3 separate regions of the Homo sapiens genome follow, and all the other regions are linked to region 3. The links come from fine-mapping of genetic effects on gene expression. A gene starts in region 3. Each other region holds a variant in brackets. All regions are shown on one strand. Distances are between the middles of the regions.

Region 1 (8,222 bases), 58 kb before region 3:
CTGGCTTCAGACAGCTCTGCCCTTGACCTGGGGCAAATCACTTCCCTGTGTGGGCCTTGGTTTTCTCATTCGTGAATGACCAGATCACTAGAGCCCTGGACTCTGACTTTGGGTCTCCTTCTTAGTTTTTCACAGGGGAAGCTATTGTGGGTTGGTCCCTACCCCACAGGGCCTGAGGCAATCTAACCTCCCTGAGAGGGTCCCTGCAGCCAGTTGCCTGAGGCTGAGTTGATGTGTGGGACAGCCCAGGAGGTTCCTGGGGGTGGTTAGTCTGTATTCAGGGTTTGGAAGAGCTGAAGTGAAGTGGGCGGGGAAGTGGGGGAGAGGGGTGCAGTTCTGCAGAGAAACGTGGGTGGGTAGCAGAGGGACCTAGAGGCTGCTAGTCCAACCTTCTGAGCTCTGGGCCTTTAACTGAACACAGATCCTTGAGGATATGGCACTAATGGAGATTTGGGGGCTAACTCCAAACCCCTCACTCACAAAGGGAGATGGAGGTCCAGATAGGGCACCCTAAGTCACACAGAACCAGGCCTCCTGCACCCCGTTCATTGCTAATCCCATAGCACTGGGCTATGAGCCCTTTGGGACTGGGAGTCTCCATGGAGTCCAACCAAGCCTTCACAGGGCAGGGGTGGGAGGGAAGGGGCTCAGGCTGAGTGGGTTTGTGTCTCGCAGTTTCCCAGACAGTCCTGGCCCAGCTGGATGCACTGCTGGTCTTCCCAGGCCAAGTGGCTCAACTCTCCTGCACGCTCAGCCCCCAGCACGTCACCATCAGGGACTACGGTGTGTCCTGGTACCAGCAGCGGGCAGGCAGTGCCCCTCGATATCTCCTCTACTACCGCTCGGAGGAGGATCACCACCGGCCTGCTGACATCCCCGATCGATTCTCGGCAGCCAAGGATGAGGCCCACAATGCCTGTGTCCTCACCATTAGTCCCGTGCAGCCTGAAGACGACGCGGATTACTACTGCTCTGTTGGCTACGGCTTTAGTCCCTAGGGGTGGGGTGTGAGATGGGTGCCTCCCCTCTGCCTCCCATTTCTGCCCCTGACCTTGGGTCCCTTTTAAACTTTCTCTGAGCCTTGCTTCCCCTCTGTAAAATGGGTTAATAATATTCAACATGTCAACAACAGCTATTGTGAGGGTCATAAGATCCTGGCTGAGAAAAATGACTGTGGTGGGTCTGGGAGTCGAAGACCCACTCCTGGGGTGGGGAGCAGTGTGCGGGGGAATGGGGATTCTGGGGACTGTTGTCAAAGAGGAAGCACCTGAGACTATTGGGGCATGGCCCAGACTCCCCCACCATGGCCCCCTGGGGGCTCAAACTGGTAGCCTGACCTTCCTGTGACCTGAGGAGCCGGAGGGAGAAAAAGGAACCAGCCCTTGCCGCCCCCAACTCTGCATGGCTGGTTATGGTCCAAGGGTTATGGCTCTAGGGTGGCTGGTCCCCATGGAGCTCAGGCTGTTGGCTTGGGGAGGGGCAGCCACTGCCTACCCCTTGGAGTCTGTGCCCAAGGCCCGACAGAGCATTAATGGGGCAGGAAGGCAGGTGTGTGTGGGTAGCATTGGAGGCACTCGAGCGCCAAGGCTGAGGGTGCTGAAGGCAGGTGGGCGGCTGGGGCAGAATCCTTTTTCCCAGGGACAGTGTGTTCTCCTGATGTCCTGTGATTGGGCCAAGGTCTGCGGAGGGAAGCTCTCCCACAAGCTGGGCAGCTGCACCTGAGGGGGGGGTGTCATGGGCAGAACACTGGGTGGAGGGGCCAGTCTTGCCATCAGCAGCAAGGAGGGGGCGGAGATTCCTTTTCTTTTTTTTTTTTTTGTTTTTTGAGATGGAGTCTCGCTCTGTCGCCCAGGCTGGAGTGCAATGGCACTATCTTGGCTCACTGCAACCTCCGCCTCTCAGGGTCAAACGATTCTCCTGTCTCAGTAGCTGGGATTACAGGCGCTTGTCACCACTCCCGGATAATTTTTAGTAGAAACAGGGTTTCACCATGTTGGTCTGGCTGAGTCTCGAACTCCTGACCTCGTGATCCACCCGCCTCCGCCTCCCAAAATGCTGGGATTAAAGGCGTGAGCCACCGCGCCCGGCCAAGGGGGCGGCCATTTCAAGAACACATTCCTCTTCCCTCCCGGTGCGCCTGAGAGGAGGCGCTTCATGTCGAAGTCAGCCCTGGGATGCAGAGAGTTGGGGGGCTCAGGGTCCTGGGATGGTCTCGCAGACACTCCTAGTTCTTCGCCTGCCCCTTCTCATCTCTATTTCTGTGGGGGCGGGGAGGGCAGACAGGAACAGGGCTACCCTTGAAGCAGGTTGGGGGAGGGGGATCCTAACAGGACCCCGGTGCCTGTGGACAGTGACAGGGTCGACAGCTCTGGGGCTCCACTCTCCTTTCCCTGAAGACCCCAGCTGCCTCAGTGGCTTCTGGCTTGCACCCAGCACCAGCGCAGATGCCCCGAGTGCCGGCGGCTCGAGGTCGGCCCGCCCGTCCGGACCTGTTTCCTCCTCTGCTCTCCTGCCAACGCCTGCCCATCTCTGTTTCCCCCACGTCCAGCACGCGCTTCGGGGACGGCCAGAGCCACCATGCCGACTGGAGAGACTCTCCTGATTCGGGTCCTTGTGTCCCGGGGCCCGGGCGGCTTCGCGCGGCGACAACCGGCGCGGTGGGACCACCGAGACGCCGGGACCTCCGCGCGGCCTAGAGTGGTCCCGGAAGTGCCCGCGGGCCGGGGGCGGGGCTCTGGGTGCTCGGGCGGCCGCGGGCTCCGCGTCAGCAGCTGCTGTGGAGCCAGGCAGCGTCGGCCGCGTCGGCCGCGGGTTGGAGCAGCTCAGGTGCGGCCCCGCCCCGCCCGCCTGCGGCCCCGCCCCGGCCCAGGTGAGCTGCCCCGCCCCGGCCCAGGTGAGTGGCCCCGCGTCCGCCGGTGTGACCTGAGTCCGCCTGACCACCTGTCCCTCCGGTGGCCCTGGGTGTGCGTGTCCCCAATCGCGGGGAAGCCTGTAGGGGCGCCACGTCGCCGCCTGGGCAGCGTGTGCGGGTCCGTGGCAACTCTTGGGCCCCCAGCCAGGAAACCTTGACTGCACTAAGAGTTTGCAGGGTGCCCAGGCCCTAGGGACTCTCTGGAGGATGGGATGACAGATGCAGGAGGACCCGGAGAAGGCCCCGACAGAGGTGGGAAGCATGGAGTTCCAGATCTTTGCATTTTCGGTCCAAAAACACTTATCATGTTGTGGGAGACAGATAAAGGGTTGCCAACTTTTTTCTGAGTGGAGACTTCAGGGTGTAGGGGCTATATAGTGGGAATGGAAAACCTCTACGGAGGGAAGTTTGAGAACACCAGGACTTAATGGGTGGGCGGAGGAAGAGTTGCAATCTAAAGATATCAAGAAAGAGAACTTGGAAGCCATGAAAATTGGGAAGAAAGCGAGGGTGGGGATGGGGTTGGGGGGTAGCTCAAAGCTTTCATGCACCTAGGTAGGCAATGTGGGCGGGTGAAGGGATATTGTCACATCTTCGTTTTTCAAGAGAAAGCCAGAAACCTACTGAGTTTTAAATATTGGTAACTAAGGAAAATGAACAGGAAAAGCCAAACTCTTCGAGAGCCAAACATAACATAGCAGGATCTTCAGGCTGCCAATTTGCAACCTCTGAAATGAAGGGTTTTGAGAAGGAGGTATTGGAGAGCAGTGCCAGATGGGGTGGGAAGGTGAAGACCGAGAAGAGAGGGATTGGCAATAAGGAGGTCATAGAATGCCAGAGCTGAGGTCCCAGCTGAAATCGGAAACTCGAAATTTGTCGTGGTGCCATACATAGTTGTATGATTTTTCTTGGCAACATTTAACAACTTAGGAGGAACTGGCCGAGAAGACTGGGACTTAGCGGCTAGTTGCAGCCGGACGAGGAGGTGAGGAGCATGGTGCTAGAGCGTGAGAGTTGAAGTGATGCGCATAGTATGGAGAGTCTAAGCTGGATGGAGAAGGGGTGGAGCTAGAAAAGGAGAACTACAGTAAAAATGGCTTGGATTTCATGAGGTCGAAAAGCACAAATTGAGTGAGAGAGCTGGAAGAGTTGGAGATTATGGGTTGCTGAAGAGGAGGGGGAGGGTGAGAGGAGTTGAAGTGATCAAAGAATTTTTGAAAATACTTTAGGGCTGGGCGAGGGGGCTCACGCCTATAATACCAGCACTTTCGGAGGCCAAAATGGGTGGATCGCATGAGCTCAGAAATTCGAGACCAGTCTGCACAACATGGCGAAAACCCATCTCTACAAAAAATACAAAAATTAGCCAGGTGTGGCACGTGCCTG[T/C]AGAGCCTGTATTCCCAGCTACTTTTTTTTTTTTTTTTTTTTTTTTTTTGAGACGGAGTCTCGTCCTGTCGCCCAGCCTGGAGTGCAGTGGCGCGATCTCGGCTCACTGCAAGCTCCGCCTCCTGGGTTCACGCCATTCTCCTGCCTCAGCCTCCCAAGTAGCTGGGACTACAGGCACCTGCCACCACGGCCGGCTTTTTTTTTTTTTTTTTTTTTTTTTTTTTTTTTGAGATGGAGTCTCGCTCTGTTACCCAGGCTAGAGTGCAGTGGCGCGATCTCGGCTCACTGCAACCTCCGCCCCCCAGGTTCAAGCGATTCTCCTGCCTCAGCCTCCCGGAGTAGCTGGGATTACAGACGCGCTGTAATTTTTGTAATTTTAGTAGAGACGGGGTTTCACCATCTTGGCCAGGCTGGTCTTGAACTCCTGACCTCATGATCCACCCACCTCGGCCTCCCAAAGTGCTGGGATTAGAGGCGTGAGCCACCGCGTCCGGCCTTTTTTGTATTTTTAATAGAGACAGGGTTTCACCGTGTTAGCCAGGATGGTGTCCTAGCTACTTAAGAGGCTGAGATAGGAGAATCACTTGAACCCAGGAGCCAGAGGTTCCAGTGAGCTGTAATCACACTACTGCACTCCATTCTGGAAAAAGAAAATACTTTAGTTCAGTGCTCTTTTTTTTTTATATCCAGTCGGTCTATTGGCTGAAAAATCATTTAAAAAAATCATTTCTGGGCTGGGCGTGGTGGCTCACACCTGTAATCCCAGCACTTTGGGATGCCAAGGTGGGCGGATCACCTGAGGTCAGGAGTTCGAGACCAGCCTGGCCAACATAGTGAAACCCCATCTCTACTAAAAATACAAAAATTATCCGGGCCTGGTGGCGGGTGCCTGTAATCCCAGCTATTCAGGAGGGTGAGGCAGGAGAATTGCTTGAACCCAGGAGGCAGAGGTTGCAGTGAGCCGAGATTGGGCCATTGCACTCCTGGCTGGGCAACAAGAGTGAGACTCCACCTCAAAAAAAAAAAAAAATCATTTCTGCTGGGCATGGTGGCTCATGCCTGTAATCCAGCACTTTGGGAGGCAGAGGTGGGAGGACTGCTTGAGCCCAGGAGTTCAAGACCAGCCTGGGCAACATAATATTATCTCATCTCTACAGAAAAATTAAAAAATTAGCTGGATGTGTTGATATGCCCCTGTAGTCCCAGCTACTTGAGAGGCTGAGGTTGGAGGATCAGTTGAGCCGGGGAGGTCAAGGCTGCAGTGAGCTGTGATTCTACTCCTGCACTCCAGCCTGGGTGACAGAGTGAGACCCTGTCTCAAAAAAAATTTTTTTTTCCAAGTAGAAATGAGTTCTGTTATGACTGTTCTGATTAATTTAGTTTTTTTTTTTTTTCTGAGGCAGTTACTCTCTAGATGCAGTATAAGGATAATTGTGCCTTTGTATAGAGTTGTGAAGATTAAATGAGGTGCCTTGAAGGACCTATTAGTGCCTAGCACAGAGTAGGTGCTCAGTGAATATGAGCTGTTGCTATCATTATTGTGTCACCTGAAGACTTTGCCTTTATCTAGCACAGAAGTTTCTGAATAGGGCTCTTTGGGGCTTCCTCAGGGGCCACATCTGGGAGGGGGAGTGCTGAGTGGGCTGTTCTAGCTTCCTTCCTTGTCCCTGCTAACGCGCCCTCCTTCAACTGGAGCAGCTCTGCTTTTGTCTGTTTTATTTTATTTTTATTTTTATTTATTTATTTATTTTTTGAGACGGAGTCTCACTCTGTTGCCCAGGCTGGTGTGCAGTGGCATGATCTCGCAAGCTCTGCCTCCTGAGTTCACGCCATTCTCCTGCCTCAGCCTCCCGAGTAGCTGGGACTACAGGCACCTGCCACCACGCCTGGCTAATTTTTTTGTATTTCTAGTAGAGATGGGGTTTCACCGTGTTAGCCAGGATGGTCTCGATCTCGTGACCTCGTGATCTGCCCACCTCGGCTTCCCAAAGTGCTGGGATTACAGGTGTGAGCCACCGCGCCCGGACTTGTCTGTTTTATTTATTTATGTCTCCTAGACCAGTGATCCCCAACCTTTTTGGCATCAGGGACCAGTTTTGCAGAAGACAATTTTTCCATGAATGGGTGGGGGACATGGGGGATGGTTTTGAGATGAAACTGTTCCACCTCAGATCATCAGGTGTTAGATTCTCATAAAGAGTGCACAACCAAATCCCTCGTATGCACAGTTTACGATAGGGTTCCAGTTCCTATGAGAATCTAATGCCACTGCTCATCTGACAGGAGGCAGAGTTCAGGCTGTAATGCTCGCTCACCTTCCGCTCACCTCCTGCTATGCGGCCTGGTTCCTAACAGGCCACAGACTGGTGCCTGTCCCCCACTCTGGGGGTTGGGGACCCCTGTCCTAGACAGTTGACTTATTTGACTAAAGTGTTCTTTGACCAAAAAAAGTGACAGTTCTAGAAAAACAAATGGCTTTTCCTCCATTTGATAATTTATTCAACAACTGTGTACATTGGGATTGTGCTTTTGTGCTGGGGGCTGGGGATTCTGAAATGAAGGAGCACAGTATTTGCCCTTAGGGAATTTTCAAGCTAACGATGGGGGCCTGAGATGGTCAAGAACCTGAGGGTGCAGAGAAAAAGGGACATTTGGACGAGTCCTGAAGGATGAGCAAGTGGCAGTCTGAGAATGGTCCTTACCTGTTAGGACCAGACAACAGCAGTGCAAATTAGTCATTGAGCTGGAAAATTAGAAGTGTTGGGGGGACCAGCCTGGGCAATACAGTGTGACCTCATCTCTACAAAAAGAAAGAATTAAAAAAATTAGCAGAGTGTGGTGGCATACACTTGCAGTCCCAGGAGGCTGAGGTGGGAGGATCACTTGAGCCTGGGAGGCAGAGGTTGCAGTGAGCCAAGATCACACCACTATACTCCAGCCTGGGCAACGGGCAAGAGCCTATCTCAAATAAAAAAGAAGAGGTGTATGGGGCAGACAGACAGGAGATGGATTGGAAGGGCCAGGTGTGAAGGAGTTGGGCTGTCACAAGATCCTAAGAAGGGAACCACCAGGCCAGGCATGGTGGCTCACGCCTGTAATCCCAGCACTTTGGGAGGCCAAGGCAGGCAGATCACTTGAGATCAGAAGTTTGAGACCAGCCTGGCCAACATGGTGAATCCCGGTCTCTACTAAAAATACAAAAATTAGCCAAGAATGGTGGTGGGCGCTTGTAATCCCAGCTACTCGGGAGGCCAAGGCAGGAGAATCACTTGAAGTTGGAAGGCAGAGGTTGCAGTGATCCAAGATCGTGCCACTGCACTCCAGCCTGGGTGAAAGAGTGAAACTCCATCTCAAAAAAAAAAAAAAAAAAAAAAAGGGAACCACCATAATCAGGCTTATGTTTTGGATATTTGACTCCATTGTTAGTGTAGGGCATGCACCAGAGGGAGAGGAGGAAGCCGGAGGTCAGCAGCTAGTTTGGAGGCCAGCCCTGAAAAGATCCCAGGAGGTAGCTCTGAAGCCTGAGCTGCAGAGTGGCAGTGAGGACTGAGAGACAGAGACGCTGCCCATGCAGCCTCAGGAAGTAGATAAGAGGGGACCGGTCGGGTGAGAATAAGAGCGGTTATGCTGACTCCCAGGTTGGGGCACCTGGCTGGAGGGAGTGCGACTGGAGGGTAGAGGGAAGAGCTCTCTTTCTCTTTCCCAGCAAAACCTGCCCCCAATGTCACCCAGTAGCTGGAGTCTTGCTCCTTTTCTGCAATGGCCCCACTTCCTGGTTGTTGTTGCTGTTGTTGTTGTTGTTGTTTGAGATAGAGTCTCGCTTTGTTGCCCACGTTGGAGTGCAGTGGGCTGATCTCCGCTCACTGCAATCTCTGCCTCCCAGGTTCAAGCGAGTCTCCTGCCTCAGCCTCCCTAGTAGCTGGGA
Region 2 (11,116 bases), 980 kb before region 3:
CCATACAAAGGAATGAGATCATGTCCTCTGGAGGGACATGGATGAAGCTGGAAGCCATCATCCTCAGCAAACACAGGAACAGAAAACGAAACACTGCATGTTCTTACTCATAAGTGGAGTTGAAAAATGAGAATACAAGGACACAGAGAAAGGAACAACACACACCAGGGCCTGTTGTGGGGTGGGGAACAAGGGGAGAGAACAGTCTCCCCTCGTTAGTTAGAGGATGGGTCAATAGGTGCAGCAAACCACCATGGCACATGTATACCTATGTAACAAACCTGCATGTTCTGCACATGTATCCTGTTTTGTTTTTTTTTTTAAATAAAGAACAAAAAACCAGGAAGGCCACAAAGGACCATGTATTATATGATTCCATTTATACAAATTATCTAGCAGAAACAAATCCATAGAGATAAAAAGAATATGAGTGATTGCCAGGGGTTGGGGTAGGGAGTATAGAGGCTGGCTACTAATGGATACAGGATTTCTTTTTGGAGTGATGCAAAGTTCTAACATTAGATCACGGTGATAGTTGCACAATCCTATGAATATATTGAAAACCACTAAGTTTTACACTTTAAATAAGTGCATTGTATGACATATAAATTACATATCAATAAAGCTAAAATTCAAAAAAAAAAACAACCTAATGAACAACATCGAACAAACATTTCTGGAAAATATATCCCAACACTGTGAAAGACCTGATAAGAAGAAAGACTACGGTTTTGCAGAGGTCCAAGCGGAGAAAAGAAACACAGTCAAAGCTTTAAAGATGCTGAGATGCAGACTGCTCAAGGAGGCTGGCAGCTTGAGATCACTTAGACCGCTGGTTCTTGGCCATATCAGACCCAAATACCCCCTGCGCACCTTTTTTTTGAAACAGGATCTTACTCTGTTACCCATGCTGAAGTCCAGTGGTGCAATCATGGCTCACTGTAGCCTTGACCTTCCAAGCTCATTGGATCCTCCCAATGAGCCTCCCGAGTAGCTGGGATTACAGGTGTGAACCATCATGCCTCATCCCCTTTCTTTAAAAACAATTGAAAATATACCTTTACTATCCTGAAATGAAATTCAGAAATAACTTATTTATTAGATATATCTTCCAAAAATATCTACTTAACACAGCAACTATGATATAAAAACCATTTTTAATAAATAAATATAAATTTCAATATGTAAATTTTCAGGCAGAATGGTCAGAAATCCACATCTCTAAGTTGAATCACTGAATTTCACAGCTACAAATACTCTTCATTTGAGTATGTCATTTTGGCAACTCAGGTACCACACTACCTATCATGAATGCTATCAATAATGTGATTGATTCTTCATTTACCTAAAAAGATGAATCACTCTTAGTGTGATGGTTAATTTATGTGTCTTCTGACTGCATCATGGGGTGCCCAGACTTTTGGTCAAATATTTCTCTGGGTGTCTCTGTGAGGGTGTTTCTGGATGAAATTAACGTTTTATTCAGTGGACTGTCTAAAGCAGATTAACTTCCCTAATGTGGGTGGGCCTCATCTCATCAACTGTAAGACCTGAATAGAACAAAAAGGCTAAGTAAGAGGGAGCCCCTCCCACCTGACTGCTGAGCTGGGACATCTCTGCTTGCCGTCCGACTCAAACTGAAACAAACATTGGTTTTCCTTGGGTCTAAAGCCTGCTGGATTTCAGACAGAAACTTACATCGGTGGCTCTCCTGGTTTTCAGGCCTTCAGAGCCAGATCAGAATGACACCATCAGCTCTCCTGGATCTCTAGCTGGCCAACTGCAGATCTTGGGACTTCTCAGCCTCCATAATTGCATGAGCCAATTCCTTTAATAAGGATCTTGTTATAAATAGAATGCTTCCCCTTTATCCGAGGGGGATATGTTTCAAGAACCCCTACGGATGCCTAAAAATGCAGATATTGCCCAACTCCATATATACTATGTTTTTGCCTATACATAAAGATGCTCCTCAACTTATGATGAAATAAAAATATCGTAAGTTGAAAATATCAAGAGTCAAAAATTCATTTAATGCACTTTACCTATTGAACGTCATAGCTTAACCTAGCCTATCTTAAACATGATCAGACCACTTACATTAACCTATAGGTGGACAAAAATCATCTAACATGAAGCCTATTTTATAATAAAGTATTGAACACCTCATGTAATTTATTGAATATTATACATGACATTAAAAATGTGACAGTTTCACGCCATCATAAAGTTGAAAAATCTTAGGTCGAACCACAGCAAGTTGGGGACCATGTATACATACCACCTATGATAAAGTTAAGTTGATAAATTAGGCATAGTAGGAGATTAACAACAATAACTAATAATAAAGTAAGCAATAATACAATATGCTAGCATCACTACTCCTGCACTGTGGGTCCATTATTAAGTGAAATAAAGGTTACAAGCACTGTGATACCAGACAGTTAATCTGATAACCAAGACTAAGGGACTAATGGGCAGGCAGCACACACAGCATGGATACATCGGACAAAGTGAGGACTCATTTCCAGGTGTGACAATGAGACCGCACAAGATTTCATCATGTCATTCAGAACAGTCCACAATTTAAAACTTACCAACTGTTTGTTTCAGGAATTTTTCCATTCAATATTTTCAGACCTTGGTTGACCATGAGGTACTCAAAGCATGGAAAGCAAAACCATAGATAAAGGGCAACTGGTGAATACTTATATTTTCTCCAGAGAAACAGAACCAATAGGATGCGTGTGATACAATCATATATATTGGTTAAATATAGTTAAATATACTATATATATAAACATATCTCACTCTCTCTTTCCCACTGGATACATATATATATATATATATATATATATATATATATATATATATATATATGTGAGAGAACCAAGACTAGTAATACACTTAGTAAAACTAAGAACAAAATGAGATAATTTCCCTTCAAAGTCTAGACTAATTCCATTTCCTGAAATTTCCATTTCTACTAAAATTACATTTTAAAAAATCCTTTATGTAAAATGGAATTCAGTTATAGGTTCAGCCTTAAACAGTTTTTTTCTATCTACATAAGTTATTCAGCAAGATATTCTAGGCCAGGCGCAGTGGCTCATGCTTGTAATCCCAGCACTTTGGGAGGCCGAGGTGGATGGATCACCTGAGGTCAGGAGTTCGAGAACAGCCTGGTCAACATGGTGAAACTCCGCCTCTACTAAAAATACAAAAATTAGCCGAGCGTGGTGGCACATCTCTTAATTCCAGCTACTTGGGAGGCTGAGGCAGGACAATCGCTTGAACCCGGGTTGCAGTGAGCTGGGATCACACCACTACACTCTGTCCTGGGTGACAGAGTAAGATTTGGTCTCAGAAAAAAAAAAAAAAGATATTCTAAAGCTGTGCAGATCATAGGAAAAGTTCTATTTTACAGAACTGTCACCACACTAAGCCTTGAATTCCATGGGCCCTACCTATTAAATAAATGCCTATAGCACCCACCAACCATTGAGACAATCACAAATGCTTCCACAAATTCCTAAAATGACCCTCAGGCTCATAAAAAAACAAATTAGAATTCACCAGAAGATCCTGGGTCCCTACCTGGTCGAGATGGAGAAATCACTGGCTGACACTCCTCCCTAGAGCCCCTCTAGAGCCCTCCAGGTAGAGATTACAGAGCAGAGGAGCGAAGGAGCACAGTTCACAGCACTTCCAGTGTCTTGGAGAAGGGGAAGTGGTGGAAATTACCACTCTCTCTTCTCCAACTTTGCTCAAGGGTGTCACATCAGCACACATCACTGAGACCTCTAGTCCAGGAAAGTCAAGGTTTGGGGGAATAAAAAGTAGCTTTCCTCATAAAAACATTGTGGATCCTGCCTCTGTGTTCTAAGAATAATCTGAAACAATAGTCCATGAAGTATGCCTCATGTATTTGTCAAACAGTGTTTCTTAAAAACACCAAAATAGATGCACTACTCCCAAAATAACAGGGAAAGGCACTGAAGGCCTTGAGCCTCCCCCAGGCAGCAAGCACCATGTCCTGTGTGGTACCTTGTACAGTTCACTGGATCCTCACATGGTCCCAGGTGGGTATGTCTAGATGAAGGAACTAAGGATCAGAGATTGCAAGTAATTCTCTCCAGGTCAATTCATTCTTGAGGAACAACGGTCTGAATTCAAACCTCACTTCACTTCTGCCACTCCATATGGCCTCCAATATACACATAACACAAGTTAGGAATGCCAGATTTTGATCTCAATGAATATTTCACAACATATTAACAAACCGTGACAACACTAAAACTACACAGCTCAACCTGCCCCTTCTGGATCTGTCTACTTGTCCAATGTTGTCATCAGTGCTGGTATACTTTTTGTTTTTGAGATGAAGTCTTGCTCTTCTCCCCCAGTCTGGAGTGCGATGGCACGATCTCAGCTCACTGCAACCTCTGCCTCCCGGGTTCAAGTGATTCTCCTCCCTCAGCCTCCCGAGTAGGTGGGATTACGGGCGCCTGCCACCACGCCTGGCTAATTTTTGTATTTTTACTACAGACAGGTTTCACCATGTTGGCCAGGCTAGTCTCGAACTCCTGACCTCAGATGATCCGCCCTCGGCCTCCCAAAGTGCTGAGATTACAAGTGTGAGCTACCGCGCCGGGACCGTGCTGGTATTCTTAATCAACATTTTTTATTTTGAAGGGACTAACTACCATGTTATTTAACATAAAACCTTTCTTAGAGCAGAATATTTATTGCCAGGTCTAGATCCATATGTATTAAATTAGAGCTGTAAAAGTAAAATTCTTAGTTGTAATCATACTAATTGGAAGAAGGGAATGAGGGATGGGCATGAGTTGAAAAACTATGCTCACTACCTGGGTGACGGGATCCGTACCCCAAACCTCAGCATCGTGCAACATACCCATGCAACAAACCTGTGCGTGTACCCCTTGAGTCTAAAATAAATTATTGACATGTATTAAAATTACTTTTTAAAACAATTATTGAAATTATTTTAAAAATCATACTAATTTATATATATCTACTTTTAAATTTAAAATATTTGCCATAATTTAATATTAAAATATTATTTGGGTGAAGACACAAACCACTCTCATTAGAGAAATAAACCCTTCATTTACAAGGCTGCAATCTGGGTGGCCTGAACGCTCACTAGAATGTCCCAGTGCTCCTCAGGACAGGGTTCACAGCTCTGGGAGCCCTGCCCAAAGCTAATTACACATTCACAGCCACACAGGAAGCTCCAGAGTTTCCTTTACTTCTACAAGGAGATCATATAATTAAAACCTCCTGAGGAAAACAAAGGGCTGTCTCTTACCTACCACATAAGGTAGAAATAATACTATTTAAAACTCGGCTCACAGACTCTTTACTAGAAATGAAAAATATCTTGGAAGCCATTTTACAGGAAACTCTACGTGCAACATCGACAAAAAAAATATTCTTGTAGTTACAAGAGTCTACTGTGGGAGGATCCTGACTACTAAAAAGTTATGAGACAAGTCATTGTGGGCACAACATTTA[T/C]TTATCAATAAACGTTTATTCCGTGTCCAGGCAAGCCAAGCACCAATTCTCTGGGAACCTAGTCAAGGAGGACTCAAATATATGGGCATATAAAGACTAGGACAGGCCGGCCCCAGTGGCTCATGCCTCTAATCCCAGCACTTTGGGAGGCCGAGGCAGGTGGATCACTTGAGGTCAGAAGTTTGAGACCAGCCTAGCCAACATGGTGAAACCCTGTCTCTACCAAAAATATAAAAAATTAGCTGGGTATGGTGGTGCGTGCCTGTAATCCCAGCTAATCGGGAGGCTGAGGCAGGAGAATCACTTGAGCCCGGGAGGCAGAGGTTGCAATGAGCCGATATCATGCCGCTGCACTCCAGCCTGGGCGACAAAGTGAGACTCCATCTAAAAAAAAAAAGGACTAGGACAAAAATACCTACTTTCAAGGAGTTCACAGTCTACAGGAATAAACAGGACATGTAAATGAACAAAATAGGTCCCCATCCTTTATGAACCTACTTTAAAAAACAAAAAACAGGGCAAGTATATGTACAGGATACAATGGAAGCAGAAAGATCCCCAATTCTGCCTTACTTTGGGCAACAAAGTAGGAGGTACACCTCGAAGGTATGAGAGTAAACACAGGTTCAACTGAAGAACTCTAATGACTTGGCTAGAATACAGTATGGCTAGAATACAGAAATGTCAAAATGAGGACTTGTCGGCAAGGGCCAGAAGACCAGTCAAGCCCTGGGCTTCATGTGACACAGGACGGTGAATAAAAGCCGTGCAGTCCTATAACCTGACTTGCAGTTCCCAAAGACTAACCTGCGCTGCTGTACTGAAGATACAGAATGGGAGGGTCAGGGATGAGGAAAACAGAATGGGCATCTAATTCCCTGTAATGTCTTTGCTCTCCCTTAATCTAAGCTTTATGTTCAAAATAAAAGTACCACTCTCACTCCACAACTCCCCCAGTATCTGAAGACCACCATGGCGATTCCCTAAATTGGCCCTCCTTCCAAGTCAGCACCACACATTCCCCATCCACTCCTCCAGATTTCAGTACCCTGTGTCCACTGGCATCAAAGTATGACAGGCACCTCGGAAGTGGGCACAGATACAAGACAGATCTGGTCTGGCAAGCACAGAGCTCAGCAAGACTATTATTTCCCTCGATCTAGAAACTGAGCTGCTCCTACCTTAATCTAAGAAAAAAAAATCTGCTTTTCTAGGAGCTTCCAGAGGCTCATGATAAGTTCATGGTTATCTAATATTTTCAAGTCTTTTACCACACAAACTGCTGCTAAGCTACTGTTCTCTTTTTTCCCCCTTTTATTTTTGTTTTGGAGATGGAGTCTCGCTCTGTCGCCAGGCTGGAGTACAGTGGCACGACCTCGGCTCACTGCAACCTCCGCCTCTCAGGTTCAAGCAATTCTCCTGCCTCAGCCTCCCGAGTAGCTGGGACTACAGGTGCGTACCACCACGCCCCGTTAATTTTTGCACTTGTAGTAGAGACGGGTTTAACTATGTTGGCCAGGATAGTCTCGATCTCCTGATCTTGTGATCCCACTGCCTCAGCCTCCCAAAATGCTGAGATTACAGGCATGAGCCACTGCAGCCCAGCCTCCCCTAATGTTTTATTATGAAATTTTACAAACATGCAGAAATGTTGAAAAAACTGTACAGTAAGCAACATCCCACTTCTTTCCTTTTCTTCTTAATTTTTTTTCTCTATCATAGCACACTACAGCCCGAGCTCTGCCTCAGCCTCCCAAGTTGCTGGGATTACAGGAGCACATCACCATGCCCAGCGTTTCCTCTTCATTGCTGTGTAATCTATATTCTAAAAAATCTAAACCTTTATCTGTTAAAATTTTCATTTGGTAAATCAGCTCAAGTTTCCAGCATTTAGGATACTTTTAAATTCTGACTTTGACTTGAAACCCATTAGTCTTCCTTCTAACAAGTGCTGTCTTCAATCTAAGTCACTTGGCCACCCAGTATTCTCATCTACAATAAAAAGGAAGTTGGACTCTAAGGCATCTCTACGACACCTTCTGACTCTTGTAATGTCAGATAATTCACATAATTGATGACGTTACATAGGACAGAGCAATGGTAAGGCTATGTGACACACCAAAAGAATCTCCTTCCGGGTCTCCCATACAGTGAGTAGAGAACTGAACTTAAAGGTCAAGAGACCTGAGTTCAAGCTCCAGTTCTGCCATCCAAGTTGTGTGACTCTGGACAAATCACTTAATCACTTTATGTATCTACAAATCTGTTTCTTCTCCTATAAAAAAGAACTGATAAAATCTAGTTTATAGAGTTCTTGTAAAAAATAACATGTGTAAACCAACAAGAACATAACTCCTGATATCCCACTTCCAGAAGTTACTTCATCACAGATCAAAGGTCAAAGGAAAAATGGTGTAACAGTCCAAGGTCAGGGATGGCAAGTTATTTCAGTGACTCAGAAACCCCACCCTTAGAAAAAATCCTTTCTAAAAAGCTTATAATTGGCCAGGAGCGGTGGCTCACACCTGTAATCCCAGCACTTTGGGAGGCTGAGGAGGGCGGATCACAAGGTCAGGAGTTAGAGACCAGCCTGACCAATATAGTGAAAACCCGTTTCTACTAAAAATACAAAAATTAGCTGGGTGTGGTGGCAGACACCTGTAATTCCAGCTACTGAGGAAGCTGAGGCAGGAGAATCGCTTGAATCCAGGAGGCAGAAGTTGCAGTGAGCCAAGATTACACCACTGCACTCCAGCCTGGGCGACAGAGCAAGACTATGTCCAAAAAAAAAAAAACAACTTAAAATTTTATATTTGAAAGTTTGACAATGGTGCAAAGGAAGCCTTTCTAAACTAAATAAGTTAAAATAGATTGGAATTCAAATTCAGTTTAGTAAAAATGAAGTCTTTTTTTCAACAAGCATTTCACTGGTTAGGTTAAAAAGAAATTAATAAAAATGCTAAGAAGTTATTTTTCCTTGGGAGGCTGAGGCAGGCGGATCACGAGGTCAGGAGATCGAGACCATCTTGGCTAACACGGTGAAATCCTGTCTCTACTAAAAATACAAAAAATTAGCCGGGCGTGGTGGCAGGTGCCTGTAGTCCCAGCTACTCGAGAGGCTGAGGCAGGAGAATGCCATGAACCTGGGAGGCGGGGCTTGCAGTGAGCCGAGATCACGCCACTGCGCAATAGCCTGGATGACAGAGCAAGACTCCGTCTCAAAAAAAAAAAAAAGATAAATAAAAGAAGGTCTTTTTCCTTGTGTCTAGTGAGTATAAAGCAGTGGTACTTAATGAGGAGTAGGGGATAATTTTGTACCCTAGGGGATATTTGGCACTGTCTGTAGACATTTTTGGTTGTCACAACTGGGTGGGAGGCAAGGTGCTACAGACAGTGAGTGTGTAAGAGGCCAGGAATCCTAGTAAACTCCCTACAACACACTGGACAGCCCCCCACGACAAAGAATTATACAGCCTAAAATATCAATACAGTCAAGGCTGGGAAACCTTGGTATAAGGGGACTGGTTAAACTTGGAAGGAAGGGTTTGTCTTTCTGTAAATCGTTCCGTAAATAAGGTCTCATGTGTACAGACAATCTGCTGAGAAAGCCACAGTTCTGGCAGCTGGCAGAGCTGAAAGAGAAGGGAAAATCTATGCACAGGGCCCTCGGATTTCCACCCATATTTCCCAAGAAAGGATACAGTTCCAGAAAGGGCTCTCTCTGATCTCCCGGAATGAAATCTGAGAATGAACCACAGGGCCTCATTGCTTACCTGTACCTCCGTTTTGTAGTCTCCAGCTGGCCTGGCACAGACTGACAACCCCAAATGGATGGTCAAAATCCACTGTTCTCCAGTCCCTCTCAAACCTCACCGGCAAGAGGGAAAGAAACTAAACCCCGAGGGCCCATTATATTCCAGCGGGGTCCTAGGGATTCCACACTCATTCAGTTCCTTTTCATCATAAGAAGTGGGTATTATAATATCCGATCCACTGTAAAAGGTGATCCCAAAGCAAATGGTAGAGCAAGAGTCTGAATAGGGGCACCTCCAACAGCCACACCCACCCCACCACAGCTCCCAGGGGTTTCTTCTAATCCCAAGGGTGGCCTATACCCTGGGACTATAGGGGGCCTTGGTGTGCTAAGTCTTCAGAGACATTTTTAAACGGTCAAGACGCCTCTTGGCGACTGGAGGAAGTTCCTGACCTCGCGGCATTCCCTCCTTCCCATCCCCACTACCACACCAATCCTATGCCAGCCTGTCTGTGTCAGGGAAGAAGTCCAGCTGGACAACTCTGGCAGCCTCCTGTCGCCCTCCCCTGCCAGCAATCCTTCTGTGCCACAGCTGTGTGTCCACACTCTAAAGCACACATCCCACCAGGCCACTCTTCTGTAAAATAATGCCTCACTGTCCCAGGCCAAATACCCCAGCGCCGATACCTGCTTCTTCAAATCCAGGCTCCAACCCATCCCTCCGTCTCATTTCCATTTTACGTGCACACATAGTCACACACTCTCACATACCCACACTTTGGCTCCTACTGTTCCTACCCCTGAAAACCCCTTACCACTTTCTTCCCTGAGAAATAACTGCTCGTGTGTCACTTCAGGACTCAGCTCCACTGCCGTGTCCTTAGTGATACCTTCCCTTGTCTCTAGCTGGTTGGTCCCCCATCCCTCTTGCCTTCCTGGCCACAGCACTCACCTAAGTGTCTTTTATCCAGACAACATTTAGGGTATACTTAGACCAAAAGAGTCATCGCTATTTATCTGAAATTCACATTTACTTATGTTTAATTTTCATTTTTTTGGAGATGGAGTCTTGCTCTGTAGCCCAGGCTGGAGTGCAATAGCGTGATCTCAATTCATTGCAACCTCCACCTGCAGGGTTCAAGTGATTCTTCTGCCTCAGCCTGTTACTTGAAAAACAGACAAAAATCAAAGGTATGATGTGAACAGCATGAATTACTGCTGAAAAATACTGGCAACTATGTGTCTCTCCCTTTCTCTTCTCATCAACTCCCTCTACTCTGCATGAGTCACCCCACTGGCCTGGAATGGAAGGGGTGACAACACTACAGATTCTACAGCTATGAGAGGATAATAAGGGACTATTAGGAACCACTTTATGCCAGTAAATTCAAGAACTTAGATAAAATAAATTAATTTCTTGAAGGACAAACTACCGAAGCTCATCAAAAAGTGGTAATTTGAATAGCTCTATATTTATTGAAGAAATTGGATTTGTTGTTAAAAACCTTCCTACAAAGAAAACTCCAGGTGTAGATGGATTCACTCAGGAATTCCACTAAAGAAGAAATAAAACAAATTCTTTACAAACTCTTCCAGAAAACAGAGATTTCCCAACTCATTCTATGAAGCCAGCATTTACTTTGATGCCAAAATCTGACAAAGACACTACGATAAGTACAGACCCATATCTCTTGTGAAAATAAATGTAAAAATTACAAACAAAATTTTAGCAAATTGAGTCTAACAATCTAGAAAAAAAGGATAATACATCATAACCAAGTAGGGTTTATCCCACAAATACAAGGTTGGATTAACATTCAA
Region 3 (11,116 bases):
CCTCAGCTGCCTTTCCCAATTCTCTGCCTCCTGTATCCCAGCTGACCTCCAAGTCTAGCAAGCACTCCTTGTTAACCTCTATGGTGGGATTTTAACAAGTCACAAAGGCCTGTGGTCCCAGCTTTACCCTTCCCCACATCTAGTCTGAGTCCAGCTTTCCCAGACCCTTCCTCTGGTCTCTCAAATGAAGGTTTTCCAGGCCCAGTGGCCACAGGAGGACAGGGCTGGGGAGGAAGCCCCCGCTGTCTTGATATGGAGGCCTCCAGCTGGCGGGGAAGGGAGCCCTGTCCTCTGATCCCCTGCGGCCCGTCCATGCCACAGGCTCACTCACCTTCTTCTGCCTCCGCAGCCTCATCTGGACTCTCTGGGGGTTCCTCTCCTGGGTGGCCACCTTAAAGCTCCCCGCCTGCCAGGTGTCAGCGACAGGGACAGTGAGGCTCTCCTCCTCTCCCCCAGTTACACCCCAGCCACCCCGCACTTGGATCCCCAGGGAGTGGCGGGAGCCACCTGGCACCGTGCTCATACCACTGGCCCAGATCCACACTCCCTGTGTGTGTCACCCAGTCTTGCAGCCGGGCCTCCCTGAGACTGTTTCCTCTTCTGTAAAGAGTGATGCAAACCACAGCTACCTCACAGGGCCTCTGAGGGCTCAGTTTCCTGTAGCTGTTGCCGTTGTTCTCACCGTCATCCCTCTGAGGAAGAACCAGGCACGAGCACCCTCAAATTGCTTTCTTTTCTTGAACTTCATTTCTACCCTGTGAGGCCTGCACTACAGGCTCAGCATCCCTTCATTTTCCAGATGAGGAAACAGAGGCCCAGAGCGGGCAGTGGCTCCCCAGGGCCCCCAAAGAGAGGACGCCTCCTTCTGCTCCTGGAGGCTCCGTCTCGGCTGCCTTCAGCTCACATCCCAGCACCACCACCCATCAGGGTCGTGTTCTCTGGAGTCTTTGAGTGTCTAGGTCTCCAGCCACATACAGTCGTGATGGGAAAGGGACAGGGCATTTTAGGAGACCTGGTTAAGTGGCACCTGCCTATCCCAGCCCCACTGGAATCTCTGCCACGCAAACTGGGTTTGAGCCATGCCAAAGGCTTCGCCTCGCCAATGATCCCCCAGGGGAGTTCCGTGCACGGAACTCTCTCTTTCTCCACTGAGGAAGTAGCCTCCTGATGCGCCATCTCTGACTGCAATGGCAGGGTTTTCCAGAGTCCTGGGTGGGGTGACATGTTGCCTTCTCATTTGCATGGACGATTCTGAGATCTGGTCAGGGAGGATCCCCTAGCAATGTATGAATCCCCCAGATACTTGTCATGAGCATGCGTCGCTGCTAACCGGTGAGAATCCTCTGACATGACCGTTTTTGGGTGTCTGCAAAGGGCAGAGTGGGGAGTCCCAGCAAACAGCTACGTCTGTCCCCAGTATGCCCATTGGTACCCAAAGCTGGGCAGTTACTGGACTCCCTGCCACATGAGCTTCCTCTGTTGTTGTTCCCCCTCTCCCCCAGTGCAGGCCAAGGCCCCCTGCCCATGGAGGTGTGCTGCAGACAGCAGCAGCAGCAGCAGCAGCAGCAGCAGCAGCAGCAGAGGCCTGGCTTCCTGAGGAATTGCTGGCCGGTTTGAGGAAGGAAGGAAGTCCCACCTACCATGATCACCCTCCAGCCTGGAGGAAGCTCCATGCCAGCAGCATGGACCAGCATGGGAGCCAGAGCCCTGCTAATGCTGCAGCTCATCACCCCTGCTCAGCAGCCCAGCAGCCCAGCAGCCATTGCCACATCCCATTTCCAGGGCCTCCTGCCCCCATGCCCCCACGTGCCCATGGACCGACACACCACTCTTCCTGTTGGCCCAAGGTAGGCATGGAGGGAATTTTTCAAGTCCACTTTTAGTAGGTAAGTCAAAACCAAACAAAATAACCACTCGACACCTGGTCCAATGCCCTTCCAAACTCACTCTTTTCTCTGACCCTTAAACACTTGTCCTGCATCTCCCAGACTCCACTGTACCTTGATCAGTAGGTCCCTCTTCACTGCAGTGTCTTTTTTGCAGAGTTCTTTTAGCTCTTTCATGCTTTTGCTATGGGCAGAGGAAAGAAAGAAGGGTAAATTTGGGAATCAGGGGAGATTTGTGAGTTCCAGTCCCTTTTGTTTGAAAACCCAGTGAATCCCAGCTTACTGGGTGAGAGTTTTCAGTGGAGTCCTCTGATCACAGGGGCTCCAGAGGACCAGGGTGGGACCTCTCATGCTCCTCCCCTGGGCCCCATCTCCACTTCACATGAGCCACTGCGTGTTTACAGTTAGCTTTCAGCTGGACACAGAGTTCCACTGCTGGGTACAAACACCTGAAAGCCTCCAGTTGGCTCCAGTCTGTTCCTGATGGTTAAAAAACCTTAGTCCTGAGTTGGAAATCCTTGCCTAGGAGTCCAGGGCAGCTTAGTGACCACAGCCACCGGCCCATCCCTGCCTCCAGTGTCCCTGGACTCCAAGAACCTTTCAGAGTCATTGAGGGCACATGGGGGGAGACCTGTGAGTCCCTAGGTCAACCCTGATGCTGCCATGGAGAGAGCCCTCCTCACCTGGACACTCCTGCCCACGTCTTGTGTAGCTGACCTATTGGGTTGCTGCACAGAGCAGAGACGATGACGTGCACCGAGGAGAAGTTGTTGAGGCTTAGGCACTCCTGGAGAGGGAAGAATGAGCTGTGCGGTTCAGAGTTGGAGCTTGGCCCACTACAGCCTCAGCCCCCTCTGCTGAGATCTCCCCTCCTGGATGAAGCAGAGGCCTGGGGAGCCTCAGGAGGGCAGACCTGGGGCCGAGTGGATGTCACTCATCTAGGAGGATTTTAGTTCAACCCAAGGAAGACCCCAGGTCGGAAGTGAGCAGCCACCACTGGGCCGTGGGAGTCAAGGTGAGTGAAGCTCTGGCAAGAAGAGCCTAGGGGATGTGCAGGGTCCAGGCCAGAGATACAGATGCCGATCCTGAAAGCCGATGGAGGAGAAGAGGAAGTTCCCCATTTTTAAAGAGGGAATCCCCAGGCCCAACCATAGCTTACCCTGGCCACCTTGATCCAGTGCTCCACCACCCTGGCCCTGTCCCGGGCCCTCATGCTGTGGTCCCCGAGGCAGGAGGTGGTGATGCAGTTGGTGAGCCTGTTGAAGTGTGCGATGGTGGCACGAACTGTGGGTGCCATGTGCTCATTCCCCTTCAGATGTCCTTGGCCCCAGATGCAGCCCAAGCATTCGTGGAGCACCACCTTCTTGAACAGCTCCTTTGGGGGAGGAGGAGAGTGTCACGGACACAGCACACTGCAGCTCAGAGTCACCCACAGTCCCAGGCAGGGACTGAGCTCACAGTCATCCACGGTCTCTGGCAGGAACCAAGCTGGAGCTCAGAAAGCTTTAAAATGGGCTCCAGACTTGTGGGAGTCCCTGGGTTTGGTTTTCTGCCCCCGAGGGACCTGAATGCATCATGGCCTAGAACCCAACAAGGGTGGGAAGAGAGAGTGACATTTTCTCCCAGGCCATCCACACTCTAAGAACTAGAAGGTGGCTCAGGCCTGCCCATCCTGAGGCCTCGTCTTCCTCCCATCCCAATCAGCCCTCTACTACTCCTCTCCGTACCGGTGCACTTTCCTTGTGGCAGCTGCAACTATGGGCTCTGTTTGGGTGTCTACCATAGAATCCAGTATGCATCAGGTACCTAATAAGTGCTGAGGGTAGTGAGGCTCCTGAGCAGCTGGGTGAGTGACCCATGGCCCTGCCTGCCCCACAGTGAGCACCTGCCCTGCCCTGCTTTCTGTCCATCTCCTGTCACTCAGTCTGCACAGTCACTCTGTGCAGCTGGCGCTGGTGATGTCCCATCTCTGCCGTCCACATGCAGACAGGGAAGGCTTGTGGGTGAGGAAACTCATCCAGATCCCACGGTTGGTAAGAAGTGGGGCTGAAATTGGACCGAGGGCATTGGCTGCTCCTCAGGGAGAGGCTGGTCTGAGACAGCTGGTGCCAGAGACACAGCCTGCAAAGCTCAGCTGCTCACCGCATCCATGAGGGTCAGCTGCTCTGCCAGCAGCCTGGGAGGGAAGGTCGTCATGTCAGGCAGCTCCTCACTGGGTTGGTTCTTTACAGACCCACGACAGGGACAGGAGGACTCTGGGGCTGACTGTGGCTCCAGCACTGTCCCTGGAGGGGGCCCTTCCCCTGGTGCTGGTGCTGGCCCTGGTGCTGAATGTAGATATCCTGGTGGACCCAGGGCTGCAGGTGACTCTGGCTCCAGAGCAGGCCCCAGGTCCGCCAGCAGTGGTGGTGCTGGCTCCAGGGCCGGCATTGTTAATGCGTGTTGCCCAGGACGTGGAGCAGGATCTGGAAAAGGAGAAAAGGTCACCACACCAGTCATTTTTCACTGGGTTTTCCAAGCACAGAAATGACCGGGTGGAATTTAAGGGAATTGTAGCCCCAAAACACCACCCCCGGAAAGTCTTGCAGACTGCAAGCCCCCTCACCATCTGGCTTGGCCTCGTTGGGCTCCGGAAGCACCAACTGGCCTAGGACAATTTCCTGATGGTCCTCCAAGCCCAGTCCAGGCCAGGAGAGGTTCCTGAAGGCCAGCTTTATCCGGAAAGATGACCGTTGCGGGGGCTGATAGTAAACTGAAGTGTTTTCGGGGGGCCAGTTGAACAAAATGGAGGTGATGGTGCTGGTGATGGAGTAGACAGCTGAGTCAGAGGCCTGGCCTTCTCCCACACAACCCTCCAGGGCACCCCTGCGTGGTTCTGGGTCCCTGGCCTGTTGCTGCCAGTGTGGAGGACAGCCCCACCCTACCGTAAGCCATCAGTGCTGTCCTGGAAGGGGCAGACCTGGCCATACAGCAGGGCTGTACAGACCCTCGTGCGCCCTGGCGTCCCACAGACATTCTCTTCCCAAAGGCCCTGGAGCACAGCACTGTACACCTGGGCACTCAAGACTGCAGCTGCAGGCAGATTTGTGAGCAGCTTCCTCATCAAAGCTCCAGATCTGGGTCCCCTGGTCCTGGGGTTAGGAGGGAAGGGGCAGATGTCGGGGGGAGGAGGACAGGGAGAGCTGGGAAGCCACGGTGCTGAGGGGGATGGGTCTCTCAGTGGCCAGCTGTGACCCCAGCCTCCCCTCTGCTTTGCAGGGGACCTAAGTCTCCATTTACAGAACTCACTATTTGCCTCTTGTGGGGGAAGTCCCCAGATGTCAGCCTTCTCGTGGGAATTATAAGAAGTATGAGCCCCAGAGCTCCTTTAGTCTCTCCCCAGCCAGAGTCCACATATTTTCCCCCATGTTTTGTGGGTGAAAAGGCCCTTCAGAACCCTAAATCCACCCAGTTTATATTTGTTGCTGGGCTGCGTCATTCTAGTCAGAATCTGGGAGGATGCCACCATACGTAGAGGAGGCCATGAGGGTCTCACCTGTAACATTCTGTAGATATGACTTGTTTATTCTGTCTACTGTGAGTGCCTGACTCTGAGTAGAATCAAGGCCGGGGGATTGTCATCTGCTTTGTTTATGAAATTATGCCAAGCCCCAAGAAGAGCGATGCACAAATGAGGTGTTTTGAATGTATGTGTTGAATGAGTGAACCCCAACCTTTGGAGAACCCCAGTGAGCCTCTCCAGATGTCTGAGTGGGCCTGTGGCTCCTTTTTCAGCACCAAGGGACCCCTCTTCTGTCTGTGTCAAGGAGAAAGACCAGCCAGAAGGAATCTCAGACATCCTTTACCAGTGCCATCGCAGACTTGGTTTCTATGTGTTTTTCCAAACAGTGAGTGATACAGGCCATTGAGGCAGAATGCTGAGAGCTGCTTCAAGTGAGGGGGAAGAGAAAAGTAACAAACATGAATCACAGCACCCCCAGCAGATTTTCCAGAGTTTTAGGCTCTAGGGACCCCTTTGTTTGCTGTGTCTTAGATCATTGAGTCCCTACAAGAACCCTGTGAGGTTCGTCTTCTCACTACTCCCTGTTCCAGAGGAGCCAACCGAGGCTCCGAGAGGTGCATCTTCAAGACAGAGCCAGTAGGGGACAGAGGCACCTCTGTGTCTTGGAGGGGGATGGACACTCACCTTCTAACCAGTAGTTCCAAAAAGTGTGGCACAGTGATAAAGTCCCAGGAGGGGCCCAGGCAGGTGGCATAGGAGGAGATGGGTTTAGTTAGAAAGGCTGGAACCAGGGACTCCCAACAGCTTCTCCCCAGTGCCGGGCTGGAAAGTTAGCATCCTGCAGATCTCATTTTCATACTAGGGGGACAAGGAGGGACATGGGAGTCAGTGGTAACACCATGGACCACCAGAGGATCGGGATCTGGAACTCACACCAAGAAGCACCAACCCTTCAGGGACTTGTGCATATGGAGAACCTGGGTGCCCATGGTGAAAAGCGTTCTAGGCTTTCAAAGTAACATTGCATGTGAGGATGGAGAATGATAAAACGATTCCTGCCTTCAAGGCATCGTCCCGGTGTTTGTCAGCTGTGGGGCAACAGCACCCTCTGTGTCAGCAACCTGCATGAAGAGCATCATCCCTGCAAGTCCTCAAGGCCTGGGGAGGCCTCATCCCCTCCTCATTTCAGCAACAGCACACAGGACAATACGCTCTAGAAGAACTCTTTGACTTAAAGGTATATGATTGTTTTTGTTCCTTTAACATGAACGTGAGTCTGGAGAAACAGCTACGGCCATCCCAGCCCTGGCCAAGGGGAAAATGCCGGAAGACTCCAGGGTGGGAGGAAGCGCGTCCCAAGGCCCAGGATCTGCGAGGCGACTTGGGGAAAACGCAGGCAGGTATTGAACCCGTGAAAGGTTACGCAAATGTATGTTTGAAAGTGGAAATGAAACAAGGATTTTCTCTGCCACACAGACAGCAGGTTGGCGAAAAGTTAAAAGCGTGTTAGTATTCAGGGGAGGCTGCGTTCAGAGAAGCAGCTACCTTCAGAGGCTGCTGGTGACCGTGTGACCAGCTGGAGCCCTTTTGGAAAGTCAACTAGCTAGAGCTGTTGAAAGTTGATATCTGCATATCCTTTCACCCAGATATCCCTTTCCTGGGTGTCTGTCTGCTGCAGGGGATTTGTTTATTTTATGGGTTGAATTGTGTCCCCTTCCCCAAATGTAACTGTTTCTATTCTCAACCCCAGAGACTCAGAATGTGACTGTGTCTGGACACAGAGTACTCCAAGAGGTAATTCAGGTGAAGTGAGTTCATTAGGGTGGCCCCTAATTTAACATGCCTGGGGTTCTTACAAGGAGAGGGGGTCAGCGCACAGAGAAGTTCAAGAGAAGACCCTGTGCTGACTGAGATAGAAGTCCGCCATCTCCAAGGCAAGGAGAGAGGCCCAGAGAAACCACCCCAGGCTGACAGTTTGACGTTGGACTTCCAGTCTCCAGAATTGTGAGGAACCAGATTTCTGTGGTTAAGCCCTTCAGTCAGGGTGCCGTGTTATGGCAGCCCTGGCAAACTGCTCCAGCCTATTAGGACACGCATAGGATTATGCTCCTTGTAGAAAGGCTGCCTCGAAAGGGAATTTTATCATGACAGGCTCCACCAGCACTGAGAGGCTGACCCGCTGTGGAAAATGGCCTCCCTTAAGGAATGTTACAATGACATGCGAGGGTACAACTCCTGCCTGATGGGGCTGCAGGGATGAGTTCTGTGAGATGACACTTTAAAGACTAATGCATAGAGTCGCTTCACCTTCTTTTGTTGTAATCAATGCACCCCCCCCACCCCCACCCCTTGTTTGTGCAAAAGTGTTGGATTTTAAGTCCTGGAGGAGGTCTGGCAGGGCAGCGGAGCTGCCTGCCTGTTGCCGGAGATCCACTTAGGGTGGGGAGTTAAAATGATAACAGTGTGAGTATTTTGCTGCAATGTTACCATTGTACTCAATTCTTAAAGCAACATGCCGAGATACTCCTGGCATAGCCTAAAGTGAAAACAGAAGGATTTTCTCTGGTCTTCCTCTGATAGGTGAAAGGGACTTTGCCTGTAACCAAGTTGCCACTGGGGACTAATGGCAGCCAGATTCCTTTGGGAGAGGACAGTGGGTCACTCAAGTGGGAACGCCCTAGGATGGAGCTTAGGGAGTCCCCATATTCGTGTCTGAGTCCTGGGCCCACCTTGGTTTTCACAAGTCCTGTCTGTGGAGACCCTTCTGTGCCCAATCTCACCGCAGACCGGCACTGGACGTGGTTGGTGGTGTGGTGCACGTGCCCTTTGAAGAATATGGAGAAATTGAATCCATCCAACAGCTCTTGTTTGGTCTGTTGTGTGGAGCTCTGCAAAGAGAGTGCCCGAGAGCCGGGCCAAGAGGTGTCAGTGGCCTGTCTGGCTGACCCCACAGTGGGACACCCCCATTAGAACTCATCCCTGGCACCCCCTTCCCCAACAGGATTTGGCACATAGGAGCATCTGCATAGACCTCCAGCCAGAGAAGCCTGAGGTCTCCGGCAGATGACAGCTTGAGGACTTGGGATTCAGATCTGAGCAGACAAACTGTGTCCTTGACACTCACCTTCCCATCCTGCCAGGCACTGCCTGGGCTGTGAACCTGACATACCTACCAGGCTCCAAACACCTGACAACCTACCTGCTCCTATCCAGGGAGGGCCCCTCATCTCCTGTTTCCCCCAAACAAGTGGGGAGGGGCCTGAGGCTGCCCTGATGGGCACAGCTGAGGCCTAGCCTGGATGGGCCTGCCCTGGGCCCTGTGTTACCTGTGGGTGCCTTCTGGCAAAGGGCCAGAGGCGTCGAGGGTGAGGGTTGAACCAATGTCTATATTCTCGGGAAAGACTCTCATTTTGGCCTCTTGTGCGACGAGGAGGTCGGCAGCATGTCGGGATACAGCAGGAGAACATGTTGTTCTCTCGAGCATCGCCTACGAAGTGAGCTGGAAATGGGGCTGTCTCTAGAATGTGGGTGCCTAGTTACCAGAATTGTAAGTTCTGTTGGGGGTCTGTCGGCAAGGAAGTGAGGTCACATCTTGTAGGTTCCATCCTGTAAGCTCCTCCTTTCCATAAGTCCTACTCAAAGGCCCCTCTGGGCTTCTGACCGCTCACCCTCCCCCGTCAACTCCTTACGTAGTCACCATTATGAAAAAGTGTGCCCCTTCAGCACCTTGGGAAGACCTGGATATAACCAGGGTCCCAGGTTTGAGGAGACAGTGCTGGGTCAAACAGCCTTTATTTTAGCAGTTGTGAGACCCTAGAGAACTCCTTTGGTGTTTTGGGGTCTCCCCAGCATGCACAATGGGGGTTATGCTAGCATCTCTTTCCTAGGGAACTCATGAGGTTATGTTTGAGATAAATATTTAAAAACTCATGGTGTGGTGTTCCCTGTGGATATTGCACACACTTAGAAATGGAACAAATACAAGAAGGGGTGAGAGGTAACGTCTAATGCAACTCCAGTGGGCCTGGGGTCCACAGTGTGATCTCGGGAAAAGACACTTTTGCTCTGGGCCTCATCTTTCATGCTGCACCAGTAGAGGTTGAGATTAAATGAAATTCAGACATCCTCCTCCTATGACATTGCACCTTCCAGTGCCTTCCCATTTTATTTAGACCCAGACCCTGTGCCTCATCTCAGCCTAGGGTGGGCAGCGTCCACAGAGACAGCACTGAGGGGTTAGTGACTCCCTTCTGAATGATGGAATATGACACAGATGATGGAATAGCACTTCTGGGCTAGTTCAGGCTGTTACAGCAAAGAAAGAGCTGTAACGGCCTGGGGAGCTCATCAAAAACAGAACTGTATTTCTCCCTGTTCTGGAGGCTGGAAGTTGGATATCAGAGTAGCAGCGTGGTCGGGCTTAGTGGTGACACTGCCGCCCCATTCATTGAGCTTTTATAGGTGCTGTCCTTTCCTTGGAGGACGCCTCAACTTTAGGAGCATGGGTAGACCTCCATTCAAAGCCCAGCTCCCCCTTGTAGCTTGGTGATCGTGAGGAAGTCATAGAACATCCCTGTGCCTGTTTTCTCCTCTGAGAAATGGCGTTAGTGAGAATTGTTTCCCTTTTTAATCACAGAAAATAAAGCATGCGAAGAAGTTAACTTGGTGCCATTGGGCAGAGGGTGAGAGCCCAGCAAACCGGAGAGATCAGCTGCCCACATCAGTGGCGAGGAGTGCGGAGAGTGGGTGAGGCTGGGGCAGGAAGCAGGCCAGCCTGCCAGAGCCCAGGAACAGGTGAAAGGCAAGAGTGAGCTCCTCACCCTGAATTCTCAGGGTTCACAGGCATGCAGGGGCTGTGGGGAGTACAATCATCAGGGCTGCTCTCGTTCCCCTGGTTCCCTCCATATCTGACGTGGTCCCAGGGCCCCTCTCCCTGTGTTTCCTCTCTGCCCTACTTTCTTTCTGGCTGCCCTCCCAGGACTCATTTTTGGCCCTGGTAAGGTGGAGTCTTGAGGTAACTATAGGCCTATTAATAACTCCTCTGATGTTCAACCTGCCATTTGTTGAGACCTCTGAGCTTAGTCAGAAATCTGCTCCTGCTGGGACCTGAGAGAGGGCTGGAGGGAGCTGACAGTGCAATGGCAGTTTTCCCTGGGGCAGCCACTCCAGGGTCTATTGGCAGGTATCTGCCGAACTGGAGCTTTCTTTTGGGTGTCTGGTGTTCTGAGGTGTGATTTTCCCTCTGAAGATAGGCTGAGCCCCAGGTGGGTGCCTTAGCCTCAGAAATGGGTCCCCCTGAGCTGGGAGCTGTGCTCTACCCTCAGTGTCCTAGGACACCTCACACCTGGCCCTGCCCATTCTGGCTTCCGAAGCCCACAGAGAGGGTCTGTAGAAATTGCTAGATACAAAAGGACTACAAATAAGTCATAGGAAGTGTATTTACATAACGCAGTGGTTTTCAGCCATTACTATATGTTTACTTCAGCAAAGGCAAAATTTAAGAATGTTAATACCCTGTGTCACCCTGCAGAGATTTGGATTTATTTGATGGGGCAGGAGACAGGCATCTTTGGTTTTGTTTTGTTTTGTTTGTTTCTTTTTTGAAAGCGGGACTTTGCAGTGTTGCCCAGGCCATAGTGCAGTGGCATGATCATGGGCACTGCACCCTTGATCTCCCAGGCTCAAGGAATCCTCCCTTCTCTGCCTCTCAAGTAGCTGGGACTATGGG

What was found. PIP is the estimated chance that this variant, and not a neighbour inherited with it, causes the effect.
Region 1: its variant is fine-mapped to the expression of RGL4 in whole blood (TOPMed, PIP 0.98).
Region 2: its variant is fine-mapped to the expression of RGL4 in whole blood (INTERVAL, PIP above 0.99).

Annotation. Positions count from the first base shown.
Region 1 is chr22:23,745,652-23,753,873 of GRCh38, reverse strand. ZNF70 (zinc finger protein 70) reads left to right here and starts at 2,762. Exons shown (of 2, transcript NM_021916.4): 1 at 2,762-3,163. VPREB3 (V-set pre-B cell surrogate light chain 3) reads left to right here. Exons shown (of 2, transcript NM_013378.3): 2 at 676-1,131. The coding sequence ends at 998. RefSeq lists enhancers at 303-976, 1,487-1,546, 2,387-2,446, 2,329-3,004, 7,544-8,044 and 1 more and a silencer at 2,597-3,046. The variant T/C (reference allele first, on the strand shown) is at 4,298.
Region 2 is chr22:24,666,830-24,677,945 of GRCh38, reverse strand. No RefSeq gene overlaps it. Among named protein-coding and RNA genes, the nearest start is that of GGT1, 69 kb to the right of the region's middle. The variant T/C (reference allele first, on the strand shown) is at 5,542.
Region 3 is chr22:23,685,904-23,697,019 of GRCh38, reverse strand. RGL4 (ral guanine nucleotide dissociation stimulator like 4) reads right to left here and starts at 6,007. Exons shown (of 11, transcript NM_153615.2): 1 at 4,811-6,007; 2 at 4,492-4,685; 3 at 4,029-4,351; 4 at 3,046-3,261; 5 at 2,570-2,673; 6 at 2,001-2,070; 7 at 332-406. The coding sequence starts at 4,989. It also overlaps the pseudogene GUSBP11. RefSeq lists enhancers at 286-365, 1,100-1,600.